Linked DNA regions of Homo sapiens: region 1 is linked to region 2. Evidence: fine-mapped expression QTL. A gene starts in region 2. The other region holds a variant in brackets. All regions are shown on one strand. Distances are between the middles of the regions.

What was found.
Region 1: its variant is fine-mapped to the expression of CPA3 in whole blood (INTERVAL, PIP above 0.99).

Annotation. Positions count from the first base shown.
Region 1 is chr3:148,930,629-148,943,616 of GRCh38, forward strand. LOC107986045 (a long non-coding RNA gene) reads left to right here and starts at 5,951. Exons shown (of 3, transcript XR_001740565.2): 1 at 5,951-6,027; 2 at 10,192-10,305. The variant C/T (reference allele first, on the strand shown) is at 5,954.
Region 2 is chr3:148,860,250-148,868,690 of GRCh38, forward strand. It overlaps CPA3 (carboxypeptidase A3), which reads left to right and starts at 5,047. Exons shown (of 11, transcript NM_001870.4): 1 at 5,047-5,126; 2 at 5,224-5,299. The coding sequence starts at 5,059.

The DNA.
Region 1 (12,988 bases), 73 kb after region 2:
TATAGCTGGGTTACTTTATTGCTGGTATATGCCCCACATATTTCTTCTTTATAAAGAAAATAGTTTGAAAAAAAATGTATCCAGTGACACCCTGCTTTTCCTGCCAATGATCTAATTGACTGTAACTATGCTCTATTAGCTCTGTGTATAATACGCCAAATTTGCAGACCAGTCAATAAAGAATTGTACGAGCCCCTATTGTGTGTGCTGGCAAGAGGGAGATGACTGACACTTGCTTTCAAGTTTCCCAAGGATGAGAAGGTTGGTTTTCTTTCCCCCTACTGTTCCACTGTGTGTCAGTATTAAACAGACATACCCTGCATATTTATAGGTAACTGCTCAAGCTAAGGGCCTTCTGTATTCTTGGCTCTTAGCCCCACCAAATGACATCCCATCAACGGAATTTTTTTAATCATCCCTTGAACTTTGTGTGGATTCTGACTGACTCACTTTGTACTGGTTTTCTTTTACCTCTTTTTCTAATTTTTAAGATTTTGTTTTCATTTTCTTTTTAAGATATTTCTCCAAATCCATTTTATTCTTCTGAACTTTTTAATATTGTTTTACCTTTATTGTTTTCAATTCCTTTTCTTAGTCCTTAATTCTCTCTACTTTTGTGTTTTCAACTTTTATATCATGGATTTTAGTCTTTTATGTTAATCTTTTATCTCTCTTACTATTATATTTTTAACTTATGATTCTTTGTATCTTTATTTCAAATTACTTATTTTATCTATAATTTTAGTGCCCAATCATTTGTCTTTATTGAGATTTAATCATCATGTTTAGATATTTTCCCTTTTAATTTATTCTGCATCTCAAATTTTTGTTGTAATCGCCTCATAATACTTTACAGTAACAAGTAGGAACACTTCCATGAAGACAGCCCTCACTCAAAACGGCTGAACAAAATAAAGGGTTAGAGGGGTAGAATATATTAACTCACATTACTGAAAATGTCATCTTGTAGGCTTGGTTTTAGACATGGCTGAATTAAAAGTTTTGAAAACTCATCAGGATCCCGTTCTCTCCATGCTTCCTCTGTAATGCCGCATTCTAGAGAGGCTCACCAGCACTACCAACAGGGCGGCAGAGTTCCAACCTACTACCTCCTTTCTCATTCAAGTTCCTCAAAAGAGAGAGGCACTTCTCCTTCCGGGTCAGTCCTACCCAAGAAACAAGGATTCACTTGAAGCCAGAAGCAACCAATGTGACCAGGTAGAGTTTATTAACTGACTCAGACCTATGTCAAGTGTCTTCTCCCAGAACAGAGGGTGAGGCAGCCTCAGCCAAAGCAACTTGATTATTAGAGGAGGGAGGCTCCTCAAAATGAGAGAAAGTATGGCGGGTAAGCAAAAGAAAACCAATATCTACTAAATCTAACATCCTTTTCTATTGTCTTTAAAATGCTCCTCAGGATTCTTGACCTCGGAATTGTCAAATAAGCCTACAACATGAGAGGGCAAGCTGGAGACCTTGTTTCTTTCCTCTTTTACAGCAGCCTCTTCTCCAGCTTCCCATAGCGGGTGCTCTAGCATTTTTGGGGATGATTCTCCAAAAACAAAAACTTTCCAGAACTGTAAGTCTTACCAAACAGCCAAAACATTGTTAAGTGTAACAAAATAGCTTCTTGACATGTCACACCATCTAGGCTTTAAAAAACAACAAAAAAGCATCAGGTATTCCTTTAACCTTAAAATGTTAAAATCCAATGGAAATGGAGTCTGTATGGGCCAAAGGGAGCTGATATGTGAGTCCTTCCTTGCAGAAATGCCCTTTTTGCAACATCACTGGCCTGATCTCAGAACCAGAGGCTCAAATGAGTGAAAAGCATCAGGATAAAGCCAACAGTGACACTTCTTAGCTCTGGTAGATTTCTTGGAGTGTACTCCTCAACAGCAAAGACTCCTTTTAAAATTAGGCAAAGACTGCATTTTTGACTGATTTTATTAGCATTTTATAACTTTCCCCCTTCATCTTTTCAAATATTAGAGAAAACAACTGTGGCAGGTATTAGTGTGCATTAGCCACCTTCATTGCATCCAGGCTGCTGTCCTGTTTTACACTTCATTTCATCAGAACTCCTTTCTTCCTAGTCTAATTCAGTTCCAGGAAGATGATAGAGTTATAACTCCCTCTCAAGTCACTGTCTGCACACAGAGAATCCCTTTGTGATGGTTTTATTATTTTAATTTACTCAACACTCTCAAGAATAGAATTAATCATGTACGGGGAAATGAACAACCCATACATAAATTTAACACATGCATAGACTATAATGACCTCTTACTCTTCTTCCCATTTTTCTTGAATCCTTTCCTGGTATTTTAGGGGTGATTTCTACGGCCTAAACATATGCATGAGGAATTACATAAAATGTCACTAGCCAAACTATTCTGCATTGCCTCTTGACTTAATGCTTTCTACAATTATATAAATCCCAAACCCCATGGTTCAGCACTAAGCCAAAAACCTGCCACATCTACATGACACAGAAGAGCTTAACCTTGAAATGCACCATACCAAATGGAACCCCATTCCTTGCCAAAAGCTTTGCAGACATCTGTCACAACATTTATCTCCCTTCAAGCAACAGCATCAGCGGCTCACAATGGTTTCTTACATTCCAAGTCTCTGGTTTCTCCCACTCCTTTTACAGGTCTTCCTCTACATTTATAGAACAGGTTTCCATCTCAAACCCAGGAAATTCTAGCTTCTTCCTATTACGTGTTTCCCTGGTTCAACCTACAACAATTATTTTTCCCACTGGTAAGAAACTCCTTCAACTTAGAGTTGACGTTTTTCAGGGTTGCTTCTTAACAGCATTCTCCATTAGTATCATACTGTTTTAATTACTTTAGTTTTAAACTGCTTGAGTATTTTTAAAGTAATACATCTACATGGTAATTTTTTTTTAAGTTCAAAGGGTTTAAAATGAAAGCACATTTTCTTCTTACACCAATTCTGGTCCATAACTTCCCCTTCCCTAGAGATAATTCCTAAAAACAGCTTGTGGTGTTTTCCAAGATATGGTTCCATATCCATAGAAAGAAACAGATATTCAATTTATTGAGAAATATCAATTTGGTGAAGTTTAAATTGACATAGCTTTATTTTTTCAATCCCTATATTCATCTGAGCTCTGAAAAAAAAAACTTTTCTACGTAACTTCTTAGGCAGATCCTATAACTTCTTTGGCACTTTCAGTTAAATTCACCTTATTTTGATTTAGAACTCCCACCTCATATCCAGTTTAAATTTCATCTCCTCTCTTCTTCCCAGTGGATCTTTCCTGGGATTGCCTCACATGACTTGGAGTTAGGAAGAGGCTGATCTCATTCATTGGGTAGAGGAAGAAGGAGAGAGTCTGGGTTGTTTGTTTGTTTGTTTGTTTGTTTGTTTTCTGGATCAGGCATTTCAGATTGAGAGCTGGGGATGCAGGAGAAATAGGAGAAGAAGAGATGCTCTTGGGTCATTGGTAACCAGTGGGTGCTTGGGAGGCTCCTCTAGTATTCCTCTGGCTCAATCTTGTTCTACCTGCTACTGGTAGCCTCTGCTAATGGAGAGGTCTCTTCATATGTGGGATGATTTGCTTGGAATGGTGCTCAACTCCACCATGCCTTCCTCTTGCTGTTAGAAGGCAGCTCAGAAAGTGGCAGACTCACTAAAAGACTAGGAGCCTGTTATGGGCTGAACTGTGTCCTCCCAAAATTCCTGTGTTGAACCCCTGAAATCTAGTATCTCAGAATGTGACTATATTTGGAGATAGGACTTTTATGTAGGTGATTCAGTGAGTTAGGGTGGGCCTCAATCCAATCTGACTGGCCTGACTGATCCTTTCCAAAGAGAAAATCTGGACACACAAAGACATGAAGGCTGTAGGAACCCAGAGGAAAGACCATGTGAGGACACAGCAAGAAGGGAGCCATCAGCAAGCCAAGGAGACAGGCCTCTGAAGAAACCAACATGCTGACACCTTGGTCTTGGACTTGTAGCCTCCATAGCTGTGAGAAAATAAATGTATTTTGTTTAAGTTACCCAGTCTGCGGTAGTTTGTTATGGCAGCTCTAGCTAACTAGTATATTCCCCAGCCCCTATATACCCGCTAGGACAAGAGGCTGCTTGGACAATCTCATTCCGTGTACTCAGAACTCTCCCTCATGCTCTTTTACATTTAGATCCAATACCCTGTAAATGAATCTTCCGTTTTTCCAAAGGACATGAGGAGCTGCAGATGGGGTTGTTCTATTCCTTTTCCCATACAAGTTACCCCCACATCCCTTCTTACTTCTCTGCAATAAATGACTCCTTCAGGCCTCCTGCTTGCAAGAATCTCTACATAAGAAGTAATCCCTGGGTTCAGATTGCCTCCAATCCCTGGAACGCCTGTTAACCATTCCCAAGAGGTAAACTTCAGTCCAATTTGGCAATACCATAGTGAGCCTTCAGATAGAAATGCCATCTAGCCAGGAGAGAAAAATGCCAGACTCACCCCACTTCTTACAGGAGGCCCAATCACCACAAGTGAGTCTTCTGAAGCCCCTTCTGTATTTCTTGGAAGACAGAGCCTTGATGACTGGACCTATTCTCTAATCTTTTTATATAAGCAAGTGGGAGCAGAGGTGATGGTTGCTCTTGGTAAGCCCAAACGGAAGTGTCTGACCTTAATTGTCAGACACCTGAAAGGCAATCGAAAGGATCTTTCAGCATGTGGGGACTGAATACCTCTTTGTTCTCAACCTTGAGTCTTGGTCACCAATTCGAAGGCAATAGGAAAAGTCCAACTTCACACACAAGTATATATTTCACATTTTTTAATCAGAGGTGAAAAGAAAATGTAGTTTGTTTGGACTATAACTGATTTAGTCTTCAACTTCAGCCCCTACCTTCTAAATAGTGGGACACAAATCAACTTTTAGTCCTATCTGGTTTGAAACTTTATCCAATGTCTTCATTTAATTTGTACCCTCAGGTAATGCTCAATATCTTGAGATAACTGCTCAGTGTTTTGCCACAATAAACAATATTCATGTCACTTTGTACACATGCATAAGTGTATCATCAAGTAAATTCCTAGAAGTGGAATTTCTGGGTCAATTCCATTCAATAAAAAGTCAATAAATATTGAGAAACATATTTATAAATAAATATTTGACAGCTTGCCAGACACTGTTCAGTGGTGCATCAATGAACAAAACAAAAAAATAAATATCTACCCTTGTGGAGCTTATATTCTCATGGTAAGGAACAGATAAAAACACAATAAATAAGTCAGTCATATAGTACGTGAGAAGATGATAATAGCTGTAGAGATGAATGAGAAGAGTAAGAGGGAATGGAAGCAGGAAGTTGTGATTTTAAATTGAGTGATCAGGAAAGGCTGCACTGAGAAAGCAACATTTCAGCAAAGACCTGGAGGAGGTGAGGAATGTGGCCCTACAGATAACTAGGAAAGCCTGTTTTAGGCAGAGGGAACATTGAGTCCAAAGGCTCTAAGATGGAAGGATCGCTGACAAATTCAAAGAAAAGCAAGGGGGCCACTGTGGCTGGAGCAGAAGGAACCAGAACAGAATAAGAGATAAGATCAAATTGGTGCTGGGGCCAAGTTAGGTAGGGCCTTGCAGCCCAATATAGGAATTTTGGCTCTTGCTCTCAGTGAGATGGGAAGCCAATGGAAGAATTTGAGCAAAACATGAAACATGATCTAGCTTTTAACACACTTTCTGTGACTGTGTGTTGAGAGTAGATGTTGGGGACAAAGGTGATAGGAGGGAGACAGGAGAGGAGACCAGGGTAGCAATCCAGGTGAGAGAGGTCTTGGCTCAGACCTGGAAGGCAGTGGAAGAGGTGCAAAAATATGGTCAGAGTCTAGCTGTACCGTATTTTGAATGTATGTGATAGAGGTTGCCAAAGTGCCCCCAAAGGGGTTACACCAATTTATCTTCCCACCAGA[C/T]ATGGAGGCTTCCTGCTTACCCACACCCTGGCCGATGCAGCATATTATGAAACTCCTGAGGCTTTGCTGCTCTGGTAGGTAAAAAAGCAGTGCCTCATTTTTAAACTTAATTTGTATTTTTCCATTTGTGAGTGAGCATAAATATTTTCCACATGTCTATAAACTATTTGTATTTGTTTTTACCTGTTCATGTCCTTTGTCCATTTTTCTGGTGGGTTGGTGATGTTAAAAATTGATTTGTAAGAACTTTTTCTATATTAAAAATTAGCCTTTTATCTGTCATCCTTTCTCAGTCATTTCTCCTTGATTTTTTCTATAATATTTTTTCTGTGTATACATTTTTACCCTTTATATACTTAAAATTACTGATCTTCCCTTTTAGGATAACTTCTTTAGACAAGCATTTCTTATCCACCTATACTCCTTTCCCCAATGTCTCTTCCGAATACAGTAGTCCTCTAAGTTTCCAAAAGAAAGATCCTCATGGTCAAAATGTCTAGAAATAATTGTAGCCCCATCCCCTTCCTAGAGGCTTACAATGTACATGAGTTTTTTTTTTTAATCTCTCAGTAAAGAAACATCAAACCACAAACCATGACCATCACCCCACTGTTCTCTTATTTTCTATTAAGTTCCATAGAACTGGTAATACTTAGAACATGGTTTGGAAAACACAACATTAGATATTCTTTGGAAAATACCACATTAGATATTCTAAAATCTATCCCCCAGTCAATCCAGCCATGAGTAGTGCTCCTGGGTTACATTATTTTTCCTACTCTCTCCCTCCACATGGCCCCACCCCACTCCACCCACCCAGATCCCTCCCTGTCACCAGCAAATGTGCTGGGCACATGTAGTGTTGACCAAACTTGTACATGATTTCGTCTGACCTTTTCAAATTCATTTTCCTTCTGCCCTGCCCTCTTCATCCACTTATTTTGTCTCATCATTTTGAATTTATTTTGCTTATACATGAGACCCCCTTTTACATTATTTCTGGAACATAGCAGAGAATGAGTAAACATAAAGAAATCCCATCTATGTACCACAAATATTGGGCTAGCACGTAAAATCCCGAAGATATAAAGATAAGTTTCTTGAAAGGGAGGAGCCTGCCAAAGTGAGGCTGAAGGTTTGAGAAAGTGGATGGGGGAGGAAAGAAAGAACCTCTGGCTTCAGCAGCATGCCATGGCCCTGGAGTCACACAACCCGCAACGGCAATTGCCCCCTCCTGTCCTCATCTGTCACAAGGAGAGTAGGGTCCACCAGAAGGCATGCGGGACCTCTGCTGTGGTCAGGAGAAAGTGAGAGAAAGTTGAGATTGGAGGGGACAAGGGCTTGAGGAATTGACCCAAATTAGGAACTTTGGTGCTGCATTACCTGGATTGGAATCCTGATTCCATCACAGACCAGCTATGTAAGCAGCCCTCTCTGAGCCTTAGTATCCTCATCCTTAAAAAATGGCTAAGAACATAGGACTTAATGAGTTGGCACACATACACACTTCGAGCAGCATCTGGCATAAAGAAAGAACTAGGAAAAGGAACCCAGCAAGAAACATTAGGCTCAGGACAAAGAAAATGGAAATCAGAGGAACTGAAGAATGCAAAATCGTTCGTTCCATGTTTTGTTTTTTGATTTGTTTGTTTGTTGTTTCATTTGGAATGATCGGCAAATTGGGAGAAAGGTCCCAAGCACAACAGGATACAACCAATCCAAACCTAGGAGTACAGGAGCAAAAATAAAACTTATAAATATTAACTCAGATTCAGAGCCACTGCCTTCCCAAATGATGCCTTTCTGCAAATTAACGGGGTGGGGTGGGGTGGGAAAGCCCCTTCTCCAAGACATTTCCAAGCCACTCACCAAGAAATTATTTTAATAAATATACAAATATACACTGGCGCTAATATGGAACAGTTCCCAGTGTTGTGCAGTGTACATCCCACAAAACCACACACCAGCCCTCAGTTCTGGCTGAAGTTTGTTTTCCTATCTTTATGCAATATGTTACATATTCTTTATCATGAAATGTTTAAACAAGAAACAGGAGAATAACATAAGCCATGTTCATCTTTCCTCCTATTGTGGCAGGCTAGAAATTTTTAATGCTTATCAATTTTTCAAATAGATTTCTGAAAATGTATTTCACATGAGATGTATCTACTTCAAAACATAATTTTGAAAAAAGGAAATTAGCTCAAAAATTCAAGCTGTTGAAAAGTTGTTGAAAAAGATTGACTACGATCCAATGTTGGAAAAGCTGTGTTAGTAACTCCATTTTTCAATTAACTTCTGGAGAGATTTAACAAAACCTGAAAGGCTTTGAAAACATTTCTGCAACAATTGAGGTCCGCAGAAATATGACAGGGCTTGAAGTAGTTTGGCTGAAACAAACACAAACTAAACTTCTGGTTTGAGTAGAGGGTTTTTTTTTTCCCCCTCAAATTATTTTCCTTTCATCACAAAATAGAAAACCTCTTTGTTTCATGCATCCAGCTGAGCACCCATAGGCATTCATTCTGGTTTGGTCTTGGCTAAATGTAGAGAAACACAGTGGACCTGTTTCAAGTCGACGCTGCCGACTCGTCATGAATTCATCACTATACTGTCACAAATGTCCTCCTACAGTGCTTTTCATTGCCTAGTGGTACCAAAAGAAAAGAGCCAGTATTGTTTATGAAATGGCTGTGAAACAGATATTTGATTCTTTTTTTCCCCCTCCGAATCTGTTATAAGCAACGGAAGCAAAGGAAGGAGGAAGAAAAAGAGAAGGGCAGGCACTTCAGTGGTGTCAAACTGGGCCGGAAGGAGAAGGGGAGACAGAATAGAAGGAAAGAGTTGAAAGAGAAAAGAAGAAAGGTAGAGGAAAAGAGAGAAAGAGGAAAAAATCTTAGTTCTCCATCCACACACCGGGATATAAACAGACACTAATTTGGAGGATGATTTTTTTTTCACTTTTTTACCTTAAACCACAAATGTGTACATCTTGGTAAGTCGTGAGCCATATTTTTACTATAGAATAAGCCCTATACTCATAGGAGAATTTCTTTCCCAAAGTTGTGCTATTTCGATTTTTATCAGAACCTCTGGGTAACCAAAATAGGAGGAAAGTTTGAAACTGTCTTGGAAAAACAAAATGTTGCTCCATCTTACTGTACTCTCAGAGCCTGGACTAGGATGAACAACTCGAGCATCTGTGATGCCACACTGAAGGAGGCACTCACTCTCAGGTGCCACCCCTGCACTCACGCGCCCTGACTGTGGGTGCCTCCTTGAATTTAGCACCTGGGTGTCTCACTTGCCTCACCCTAATCTGGGCCCTGCCACCCAGTCCCACAAGTGCTCCTCTGCCCTTGCAGGAATCTGTGCTCTTTCTCTCACTTCCAGCTAAAAACCAGTTGCAGCGTCTCCTTTCCCTTCTGAATCTCCAACTCCTTAACCACTGCCCACTTTATCCCAAGCCTTATTCTCACCTCCCACAATCAAGCCTCTTTTGTCCTTAGGCATCTATGGCTGAGTTTTAAGCAAGCCACCAAGAATTTTAGAAGTTAATCAGTAATTCCTGGGCCTCGTTTTGATTCAAAAAAAAAAAAAGTTGCCAGGCACAGTGGCTCACACCTTGTAGTCCCAGTACTTTGGGAGGCCAAGGCAGGCGGATCGCTTGAGCCCGAGTTCAAGACCAGCCTAGGCAACATAGCGAAACCCCATCTTCACAAAAAGTTAGTCAGACATAGTGGTGCACGCCTGTGGTTCTGGCTACTCAAAAGGTTGAAGGAGGAGGATCACCTGAGCCAGGGAGTTCAAGGCTGTAGTGAACTGTGATCGCATCACTGTACTCCAGCCTGGATGACACAGTGAGGCTCCATGTCAAAAAAAAAAAAAAATCAATAAAAGAAATTTTGTGTTATCCTGTGAAACTATGAAACCACCTTTAGTGATCTCATTCCCTAAAAATAAATCTCCGAAGTTCTTTCCAAAACAGATTTGTACTTAAGGATGACGGAAAGTCTAACATGATGTGCCTTTCTACTTAGTTATTGATTGGATTACTTTATTATTAGGTTAGATTCAGAAAATGGTTTTCTAGAGGAAAAGATAATGTCACAGAGACACCTCCTGGGGTTTTCTTCAGTCACCCAGAACCATCCCTTTTCCCACTCAACTTTCTTCCTTCCCTACAGGCAACTGCTCTATACCAGGCCTCTCTTAGGGAGACATGTCTTATCCCTCAGGTGTGCGGAAAAACACGGCTTCTGCTGGAGATGGAAAAAGGACTCTGGGGAGGACAAGATGCCTCATGTCAAAGCAACAAGGTTCCAGTGAAGAGCTGCAGGCCTCAGAGGCAGGTAGGCAGAGCCATTTCTTGGTCTGAACGTCTTTCTTCTTCGGTCCCCAGCAAATCATCACAGTGAGCTGTCAGCATTTTCCCCACATTCTCCAGAAGCAGCCTCTGGATCCTAAACACAATTCTTCCTTTGATTCTTTTGATGACGGTGCAACAGCAAAATGCTGTGGCAATCAAAACTGCCTGAAAACAGCAGATTAGCCATTCCAAGTTTTAACTGAGTTAATCAAAGAACTGTCAGCACAGATGCTGTCCATGGTTCTCCTAGAGATGAAATCTCGATGCTGTGTCCTTGAGACTTCTCATTTAGAGGGCCTCTTCCAGACAGAAGTTTGGGATATTCACAAGACTAACTTCTACATGTGGTGAGGTTGAGGACGAGGATAGCAGTGAAGATGTGCCAGACACTTAAAAACACTATCTCATTTAATTTTCCAAAGAGTCCAGCCAGACACATACCAATGTCTCCATTTTGCAAAAGAAATTGAGGCTCAGAGAAGTTATATGGTCACTCAGCTAGGAAAAGCTGGAATTAGAATTGGAGCCTATGTCTAATGTTCTTAGACTTCACACTCTTTGCCCCTGTTCACCCCTCCTCATTTTTTCCTCCCATATGCAATGTGCCTAATACTCTTCTCAAGAGCACACATGCTTGATTCACAGCTTGGGCCTTGGCCTTTCTTTTCTGAGTTTGAATCATAGGCAGCTAATGCTAAAGGGGTCTTCTCACACAGCTTTGTGCAATCCTCTAAATTATGATGAGAAAACTAAGGAGCAATAGATTAAATGGCTGTGGCTCTAGTGAGCCATTGAGTCAATGTCGGCACCAGGACCACCACTGACTCTGGGGCAGTATGCTAGCACTTCATAGTGCTCTCAAAGTTGTGCAAGGGCCAGGCATGTGCCTCACACCTATAATCCTAGCAACTGGGGAGGCTGAGGCAGGAGGATCCCTTGAGGCCAGGAGTTTAAAACTAGCCTGGGCAACCCTTTTTCCTAAAAAGTTTTAAAGCATGGTGGTGCACACCTGTAGTCTTAGCTACTCAGGAAGCTGAGGCAGAAAGATCCCTTGAGCCCAGTAGTTCAAGGCTACAGTGAGCTGTGACCGCTGTAACGCACTATAGCCTGGGTGACAGAGCAAAATCAAACTTTTAAAACATATATATACATAATATATATTTTTAAATATTGTACAAGGAGAGACCCATGTCATGGATGTGGGGAGCTGATTCTCTCAAGCCTTTAACTTTTCTGGGACACACAGGTAAGTGGGGAGCTCTGGAGTGACAGTGAGGGGCAGCACTCACACATGTCAATCATGTTTGACTCTGGCACTTGCTGTTACTTTTCAGCAGAGCAATTCTAGTCATCAAAACCCATAGAGAAAGCACATATTAAACAGAAACAGATTTTCTAGCACTTTTTCTGGGTGAGTTCTTTCATTTTCTTCTAGGACTTTCTGGTTTTCTCATCCTGGAGTGTGGCAGTACAAGGTTTAAACTACTCTTCAAATCACCACCACTGTCTACTTCTTCAATTCCTTATTACCTATTTTCCAACATGGCCCCTTGGGCTGAGTAATCCAGTTTATATAAACCCCACACACCCTCTACAGGTGATTTACCTGCTCCTAGATGACTGCCTCCTCCCTCTGGTACCCACCTCCTTAGTTCCTCTAAGCCAGAAGTTGTAGTCACAAATGGCTTCAGGAGCTAGGAAGATAAAGAGAAATGTGTAAAGTGCCAGGTGTATGATGATAGGGAATGGTGAGGAGGGTAGCAAACTAGAAGGTGCATGCCCCATCTACAGAAATACAAATTTTAAAAAATATAAAGCATTCTGCTGACCAAATAGAATACTTGTACAGAACTGGATGCAGTGGCTCACATCTGTAATCCGAGCACTTTGAGAGGACAGGGCAGCAAGATAGCTTGAGGCCAGGAGTTTGAGACCAGCCTGGCCAACATAATGAGACCCTGTCTCTACAAAATTAGAAAATAAAAAAATTAGCTGGGCATGGTGGCACACAACTGTAGTCCTAGCTACTCAGTAGATTGAGCCTTGAGTAGCTACTCAGGAGGGCTGCTTGAGCCCAGGAGTTTCAGGCTGCATTGAGCTATGAATGAGCCACTGCACTACAGCCTGAGTGACAGAGTGACAGCCTGTCTCCAGAAAAAAAAAAAAAAAAAGAATCCTTGTGCAGCCTGGATTCACTTGGATTCAGTGGGCACCAGTTTTCAATCTTGTCAGGTCCCTCCTCTAAACTGCTGGCATTTCTTTCTTTAAATCCTTTCTCAAAGTCAAATTTGTTTCCTGAGTATTTTCTTTACTAATCACCGCTCCTTTACAACCCTTTAATTGTATATACAATTTGTACCCTTTTATCTGACTTTCATATTTTATGTATTTTAAGGCAAGAATGGTTTATCTATGTTTGATATGTCGACTTTACTTGAGGCCCTACCTCAAATTTAGTTAATCAGAACCTCCAAGGAAATATAGTGCAAAGTATACAAGTCTTATAAAATAACTCTTATTTGGTACAAGTTCTATTCCTAAGTGTTTACATTTGTGTCACTGGAATCTTTGGAAATTCCTAACAATGGGGCAGAAGTTAATTTTCTGCATCCCCATAGTTTGGAGGAAAGGGAAACATTCTGTTGTTAATTTGCACAAATACAAAT
Region 2 (8,441 bases):
GCACAGTGAGGATCCGGTCAGCTGTATAGGAGTTAACATCCTGGGGTGCTGGCTGAGACCATCAGGGTGTAGATGCACTGATTATAGTGGGAGGCTTGTGAGCTAAGAAGAAATGTAAAGGGAAATTTAGGACTGTTAAACCTGGCATACATGAAAAGACACCATCTTTCTTGGTCTAGCTTTCATCTCAGCTCATTAAAGTTATTTTATCGGCTGTCTACTACATGCCATGCACTTTGCTAAGCAATTGAAGATGGAACAATGAAAAAGAAAGATAACATTTCTGCCCTTAATGGGTGTATAGGCCCTTTGGAAAGACAGACATTACACAAATAATTAACTCATTAATTAACAATTTATTAATTAGTAATCTAATTTACATTAATCAAATAAGTGCTGGATGAACTACACAAAAAGAACATACAAAAAGTCTACCTGCTTGATGTACGGGAGAAGCCTCCCTCAGAAACTGCTGTAACCTGAGAAATAAGTCACAGTTAGCTAGACAAAGGGAGCACCGCTTCCAGGCCTGTGGCTATCCCAAAAGTATAAGAAGAAAGCCAGTGAGGGTGAAATTTGGAGAGCTGAGGAAAGAGGAGCATGTGTACAGGCTGGGGAGGGTGGTAGGAACCATGTCAGGCAGAGCTTAGAGGTCACGTTAAGGACTGGGGACACTGGTCTAAGAACAATGAAAATCCATTGAAGATATTAAGTCATCAATGACATGGTTACAGTGTTTTTGGAACACCAACTAGGCTAGGGTGTGGAAAGCAGATCAGAAGTGAGACAAGAGGATACCAGGGACCCTGACTGGACCACTTGGACCAATGAAAGTGGCAAAAATCACTCCAGAACTTGATGTTTTCCGGGATTGGAATTGGACATGCTGTGTTGGGAAGTATTGTGCCAAGTTCAAATTTTAAAATAGAATGAGATGTATTAAAGTTACGATTTGGGGGCATCTCTTACTTAAAAATGATAGACTATTAACTCATTACTTTCTATAGACTTTCTGTAGTCTACTTTCATAGACTCTTAACTTATTACTTTCTATATGGCTTCAAGAAAAATGAGACTCCATATAGGGAGGGCATGATGTGCTAAAATATCTATAACAGTGTTCTATTCATAAAGAGAATCCATTGAAGTAACAACGGTTTGTGAAAGTTGTCAAGCCAAAGAATAATTAATTGCATTAATTGTCCACTAGGTGGTAGCAGTGCAGCTGCTACAATGTGTCACACACTCATCTTCAAACTCATTTAGTAATACATCATTTAAATAGACAGAGAACCATATGTGAAAAAAAAAAATCCCATTAATTTGTCAGCAACATTGGTGGTAATTTAAAAATAGATGTAATTTAGCTAAATATTCTTCCTCCTACTCTTTAAGTTATATCCACTTTGTGTATTGGAGGGCTAACATAGCCATAGTTACCTGAGTGAGGTAATCTTGCTGGAGGTGTATCATTAAACTCCTGTTCCACAGGATACTCCCTTGCTATCTCTGGCAAGTAACACCAACCCCTGACTAAGGGAAGCTGTGGCCCAAAGTATGGAAATCTTGGCAAACCACAAAGAACTCTCCTAATTCCCTAAATTGAATGCTTTAAAATAGAAATTAGGAATAATATATGTGGACTGCTTTTTTAAAATTCCAAGGAATTTTTAAGGGTAAGAACAAAGAATAGGAAAGCAAATATGCAAATATTCTTATTTGAAATCCCATGTATCTGAGATGTCCTGCACCTGAGAAATTTTTACTATGACCACTGTCTACTGAAAGTTAACAGGAAGCTGGGTAGAATTTCCACTTGCCTGGGCAAAACCAAGAAAAACAGAAAGAGAAATCTGCCTTAGTCTTCACTGTAGTAGTATCTGACCAGCTAATCAGAGACTGCTGTGAGTCCACCCAGCCTTGCCCACCTGAGAGCCCCAGGTTGGGGGGATACCTCTTCTTCTCCCTCTTTTATCCCACTCCCACCCTGAGATCCCAGAGCAGGCTCTGAGCCTTTCCTTCAGCTCCAAGCTCTCAGCTCCCAAAGCAACAGTGAACCAACAGCACAAGAGTAGCCCCTGAATCTTTCTTTCTCAAGTGGTGTGGGTAGAAAATAGCAAGACTGATTTTCTCATCTGGATTATGGAATTCCTACATACCTAGAATCATATGCCATTTGTTCATCTTATTCTGCAAGCTGACCTATATGAATTGGTCAAAGAGAGAATTTCTAGAAGGAAAAGAAGGCAGACCATAGCAAGTTAACATGTTAATTTGGGGGCAAAAAGGGTTCTGCTGAGTGATAATGATTAAAAATATATAGAGAAAAGCATAGCTAAACTATATGGTGATATTTTAAATCATGGCTAGACGTGCACTACTACAAATACCATAGAAAGTGCAGAGCTCAAGAAAGATGGAAAATTATGGCTGCATGAAGTATTCACCTCTAAGTCACTTTTTAAAGAGGTTGATTTAATCTGTGAAACATCACAGTCTTACATAGTCAATCCTAAAATGATACGGGGTTTGACAATTATTCATCCTACCCACACATATGCCAAGACCTTTTATAAATCTTGATGCAGTAATATAAGGCAGCACTGATCTATGCTTGCCAAGAAATAGCGCTTGTTCTGAGAAAAAGCTCTAGAACATTATTGAAATCCATCTATTGTATTTTTCTTCAGAGGCTAAATAGATTGGAGAGGCAGTGGGAGTCTCAAACACATCACATGTTTATATCATATTCCAGAAAGAAGAAATTGCCAATATGTAATCTATTAAGAAGCCAAAGATGTACTTTTATTTATTAACAAAGTCTTATCCTGAGAAATACCAAAGTCCTCAAAGCACTCACCTAGATTCCCCAAATAAAATAAAAGTGTTCTTCCTACTTGACCTGAAAAACAGACATAGAAGCTTTCTCCACACAATTTTAAAACCAGTCACAGAGGAAACAGCTTCAAGAAAATATAACAGAATTCTAAAATTAAGAGGATTTCTATTTTTCCTCTTTCACCTTTCCTGTATTTTCCAGAATCATTTTCAATGGGCATTTATAATTTTTAGAATCAGAAAATAAAACTCTAAAAAGCAAAGCTATAACATTAAAAAAAATTATTGAAGTAGTCCACATGAAAACAAATACAGAGACATATTTTATCCCTAAAGGTCACGGCCACCACTTTAATCTACCACATGATCTATTTTGATACCGGTTCTGCAGGCTGGCAGTGGCCCACTGGAAGTCTCTGTTGACAGCACATGAACATTTTATCAACTGTCTAGAGAGCATGGACGTGTTTTTTAGCACCTACCACGAAGTCCCTAACATATCCTGTCTCACTAAGCCTCACAGCCACTTGTTAGAGTCACATTAGCATTCCCATTTTACAAATGAGGAAACCAAGGCCCAGAATAACTAGGCAGCCTGCTCAAGGGGATGTAGCTAGCGTGTGGGAGCCACATTGAAGTGATGTCTGTCGAAACCCAAAGTCAAGGTCTTTCTTTTTCACTGTTCCCTGGTCAAAAGTATCTTTAGTCAAAAGCAATGGAGCAAGCATTTGCTTTGGGAGTTCTCAGTGCTGGTGAGCTTGCCCAGTGTCAAGAACATGAAGGCATTTGTAAAACCCTCCTCTTCCTTACCTGCAAGGCTGGAGCCGGAAAATCCATTTGGGGAAATAAAAAAAAGTCCCGAGTTCTACCACACACCCATCAGATAGAGAAGAATGGAATTACTGCTGCTGTATATATAACAGGGGCGTGTCTCCAACCACACTATTTTGATAGTACATAAGCGTGACTCTGAGAAGTTTTATCTACAGTCAGCTATACGTTTGTCAATGTGAAGAGGTGGTTTTCAAAAAGGAAATTCTAATAAGTTAACTGATTAGATAAATTCACTTACTCTTTTAGGTTACCTATGATTCTAGGTAAAGGTGTTATTCTCCCATAATTAACCAAGTTGTGTTCAAGACTAAACATCCCTCCAGAGATGGTTGTGAATGGTCTATAGGTGGCTTTCATTAATTCAACTCTCAAAAGGCATTATTTGGCAATTACAGCATCCAGGCTCTGAAGACAGTGTCCAATTAATAAACATTACAGCATTGATATTTTCTTGCTGTCAGGTAGTTCTCAAGTTGCCTTAGAAATAGGGGTCACCTCTGAGGACAGAGAGAAGAGAAGGGCAAAGAGTTAGGGCAGTGCTTTAGGTCTTTAGTGTTTATTTCTTTACCCAGAGAAGTACAGGAAAAATATAACAAAAATGTTATCATTGTAAAATCTAAATGGTGAACATTTCAATGTTCGCCATAGTACTTACAGCATTTTTAGTACATTTATATTTTGTAATTTAAATTTTTGGGGTTTTTTTTGCCTCCCAAGTAGCTGGGATTAAGGCACCTGCCGCCACGCCCGGCTAATTTTTGTATTTTTTAGTAGAGACAGGGTTTCACCACGTTGGCCAGGCTGGTCTTGAACTCCTGACCTCAGATGATCCACCCGCCGCGGCCTCCCAAACTGCTGGGATTACAGGCGTGAGCCACCGTGCCCAGTCAATTTAAATGTTTTTAATTTCACAACTTACATTCTAGCTTCAAAAATATATTTTACATTATTACGAACCACTCACCAAGATTTTATGGCCAGATACCCAAATTCATCTCAGTCTCCAAGTGCAAATTTTAAAACTAATTTCTTCCATCATTCAATTCAAGCAGAATGGTAGAGTAGTATTTTAGAACAGATAGAACTAGTAAATCCCAGCTCTGTGAACATACTTTCTCTGTTACCTTGGCCAAGTTATTTGCTAAAGGCATTTGCTTCCCATCCTGTATCTGTAAAATGGGTATTTCCTATTGCAAAAGGTAGATAAGTAGCATGTGCTTGGTGGGTTAGTGTTTTTCCCTCTCCAGCTGGAAAAAAAAAACCTGGTGTGGGGGAAGAAGGGGAACAGTTTGTGCAACAGAACCCTAAGAGGAAATCAGCTGCTCATCAAGATAAGGGCTGAGGCATAAAACTGCCAGAGGGTCTCAAGGCAGGCAAAGAAGAACCATGAGGCTCATCCTGCCTGTGGGTTTGATTGCTACCACTCTTGCAATTGCTCCTGTCCGCTTTGACAGGTAAATCTTACTTCCTGTGTTCCAGTCTCTGTGTAGAAGAGAATTAAAGGTTGTTTCCTTACAGTTCACTTTTTTTTTTTCATTTGCCTCCACAAAGGGAGAAGGTGTTCCGCGTGAAGCCCCAGGATGAAAAACAAGCAGACATCATAAAGGACTTGGCCAAAACCAATGAGGTAAGCATTTAGAGGGATATTTTATCTTTTCTTACTGTTCTCTAAAAGATGCTTCTTCTTATTTTACTGTCAATGCCCATGGGACTACAAAAGACTATTGAACATAAGGGGAAAGCAGGAGCTATCTGGATAATTCAGCCAATGGCCAATACTTCACCTGTTCTGGTTTTGGTCTTGGTTTCCAAGACTACCACTTCTGTTTTTCCTCCCAAAAGCTTTTCAAACACCAGCTTTTTCAAGGTAAAACTATGAAATCAGGAGCTGTTCTTGGCCTCCTTATCAGGGCATCTTTCTCTTGCCTACGGGTGCCATTCCCTCTCCATTCTCCCCACTCCGACCCTCATCTCCTCTGGTGCCATAATTTCTCTTGAGTACTAACTGAAAACGTTGAGGCACTGGCTAATATCAAGATGTGACCCTTTCCAAGAGCAGGTACATTTTCAAATAAGACTTTTAAAGTTAGATCAATCCTTTAAAATCCAACAGCCTAATATAATTTTATCATGTATTCAGCTGCTCCTATTTATGTTGCACCAGCCACCTTATATATGCCATTTCAAATTCTCCAGCAGATTCTCAATGTCAGGGTTATAATGTAACTCATTTGAAACAGAAGAGCTAAAGTGCAAAGACAATAAATTAAATGACCAAGATTACACATCAAATTTAAACCCAGAACTGGGTCTGGGATTTATTCCAGTCAAACATACAGTTACCTCTACATCAAATCAATCAAAGGCCCTGCCTATTCTAACTCCCAAATGTTTCTCAAATCCACACATTGCCCTCCATTCCACTGCCACTGCCAAGTTCATGTTCACTCTACCTCTTGCAAGGAGAATTTCCATAGTCCCTTAACTAGCAATCAGGGCTCTAGTCTTGACTCCCACAAAGCCAACTCTGCATTGCAACCTGATTGCTCACTCTAAAACTTGACAATTGCATTCCTCCGTTTGAGGGTCATTACTAAGAAGCAGCCTAGTACGGAAAAAGCATTTTCTTCAAAGTCAAACGCTTACATTCAAATCCAAGCTCTACGCTAGCTCTGTAGCCTTAGGCAACTTACTCAACATCTCTGGGTCTCAATTTCTTCTGCTATAAAATGGGGATAATAGTCATAGCTACTTCCTAGGGTTGCTACAAAGACTAAGTAAGCGTTTGATAGCACTTAGAAGCAGGCCTGCCATATTAAGCACCATAGAAGCGTTTTTTGTTTGTTATTGTTTTTGTTTTGAGACAGAGTCTCACTCTGTCACCCAGGCTGGAGTGCAGTGGCACAATCTCTGCAGCCTCCGACTCCCAGGTTCAAGCGATTCACCTGCCTCAGCCTCCCTATTAGCTGGGATTACAGGTGCCCACCACCATCCCCGGCTAATTTTTGTGTTTTTAGTGAAGACGGGGTTTTGCCATGTTGCCCAGCTGGTCTCAAACTCCTGACCTCAAGTGATCCACCCGCCTCAGCCTCCCAAAATGCTGGGATTACAGGCATGAGCCACCATGCCCAGTCAGAAGCATTTTCTTTTGGTATTGGTATAGCATTCAAAGCGTTTTATGATCTGCCAAACTACCAGCCTCTTCAATATCCTGCTCCTCCACCTTCTTCCACACCCTTCAAGCCCCATAAACACCAAAATCTCACCCACCTTGGCCCTGTACATCTTTTCTCATGAAAATGTGTTTCTCTCCCTTTTGACCTGGGTAAGTCCTACTTATTTCTCAAGATCCAACTCAGGCAGTGTCTCCTGCAGGACGTCTCTTCTGTTCATCAACTCTCGTGACTCAGTTTTGGCTGCTCCTTGTGCTCCTGGAATACCCGGTTCCTTCCTCTGGCATTGGTTAACATGTGGGAAACATGCATGTATGACTCTGTGTTCCACACCAAACCTTTCACATCTCATAAGTCCCTTATTAGTCTCTACAACTGTGGCACCCAGCTCTTTGCCTCCTGCTTAATACATGAAAGTTCACTAAGCTCTAAGCTCCTGCTGCACATTACCCTGCTAGAACACAGAAATGTCTATTGTGATAAGATGGCTCTGCCTAACTTGCCTTTGCATCACACTACATCTCTCATATGTCCAACTCATGATGTAGCTTTTTGATCAAAATAAACATTGGTTGGTTCATAGCAGCCTCATATTGTCACTTGATTGACCTCGAGGTAGAGGGGGACTCAACCAAGAAACAGCCAGGCAGACCTGAACACATACACAAGCAGGGGTGGAAATTGAGCTTTTCCTTCACATTTCCCAGGCTGGGGACTTGTACTTCATTTAGTTTCACAATTGAGTATGATTTTGAAGAACCACAAGAACTGGAATCTTTTCAATGTTTGCTTTTGTTTTTGTTTTTTGTGTTTTTTCTGAGACAGAGTTTTGCTCTTGTTGCCCAGGCTGGAGTGCAATAGCGAGATCTCGGCTCACTGCAACCTCCACCTCCCAGGTTCAAGCAATTCTCCTGCATCAGCCTCCCGAGTAGCTGAGATTACAGGCATGTGCCACCATGCCTGGCTAATTCTCTATTTTTAATAGAAGTGGGGTTTCTCCATGTTGGTCAGGCTGGTCTCGAACTCCCGACCTCAGGTGATCCGCACCTCAGCCTTCCAAAGTGCTGGGATTACAGTCGTGAGCCACAACACCCAGCCTCGAAATTATTTTGATCTGAATGCTATACTTCTGAGCTCATATACCAAATTTTTGAAATTGTCAGCTAGAGGAAGAGAAAGGAAAAAAAAATCTGCACCTGTTAACTGTCTTCATGCCCCAGACCTCAGACCTATTTCACAATCTTCACAACACTTCCCAGTGGACCCTCATTTGCCCCATTATTTCAGGAGAGAGGAGTAAAATTTAAAGAGTCCTAGTAACTTGCCCAAGGACATATTGCTAGAAAAATGACTTTGCTGGGGGTCTATGCCAACTGTTTGATACAATATCTTGTATCAGGATTTCCAGAGTTTATAGGGACATCAGGTTTTGAGGACTAACTAACCAGATATTTAACTTAAATTTCCAATTAGAGGCAGATTCTGTGGCTAGATGAATTGTGATCCCATTCAATCCCAAAATTGTGGAAGAAAAAAATTAACCAAAAGATCTGCCCATCCTTTTTAACTTGATAGACCTGAAGTCCTTAAAAAAAA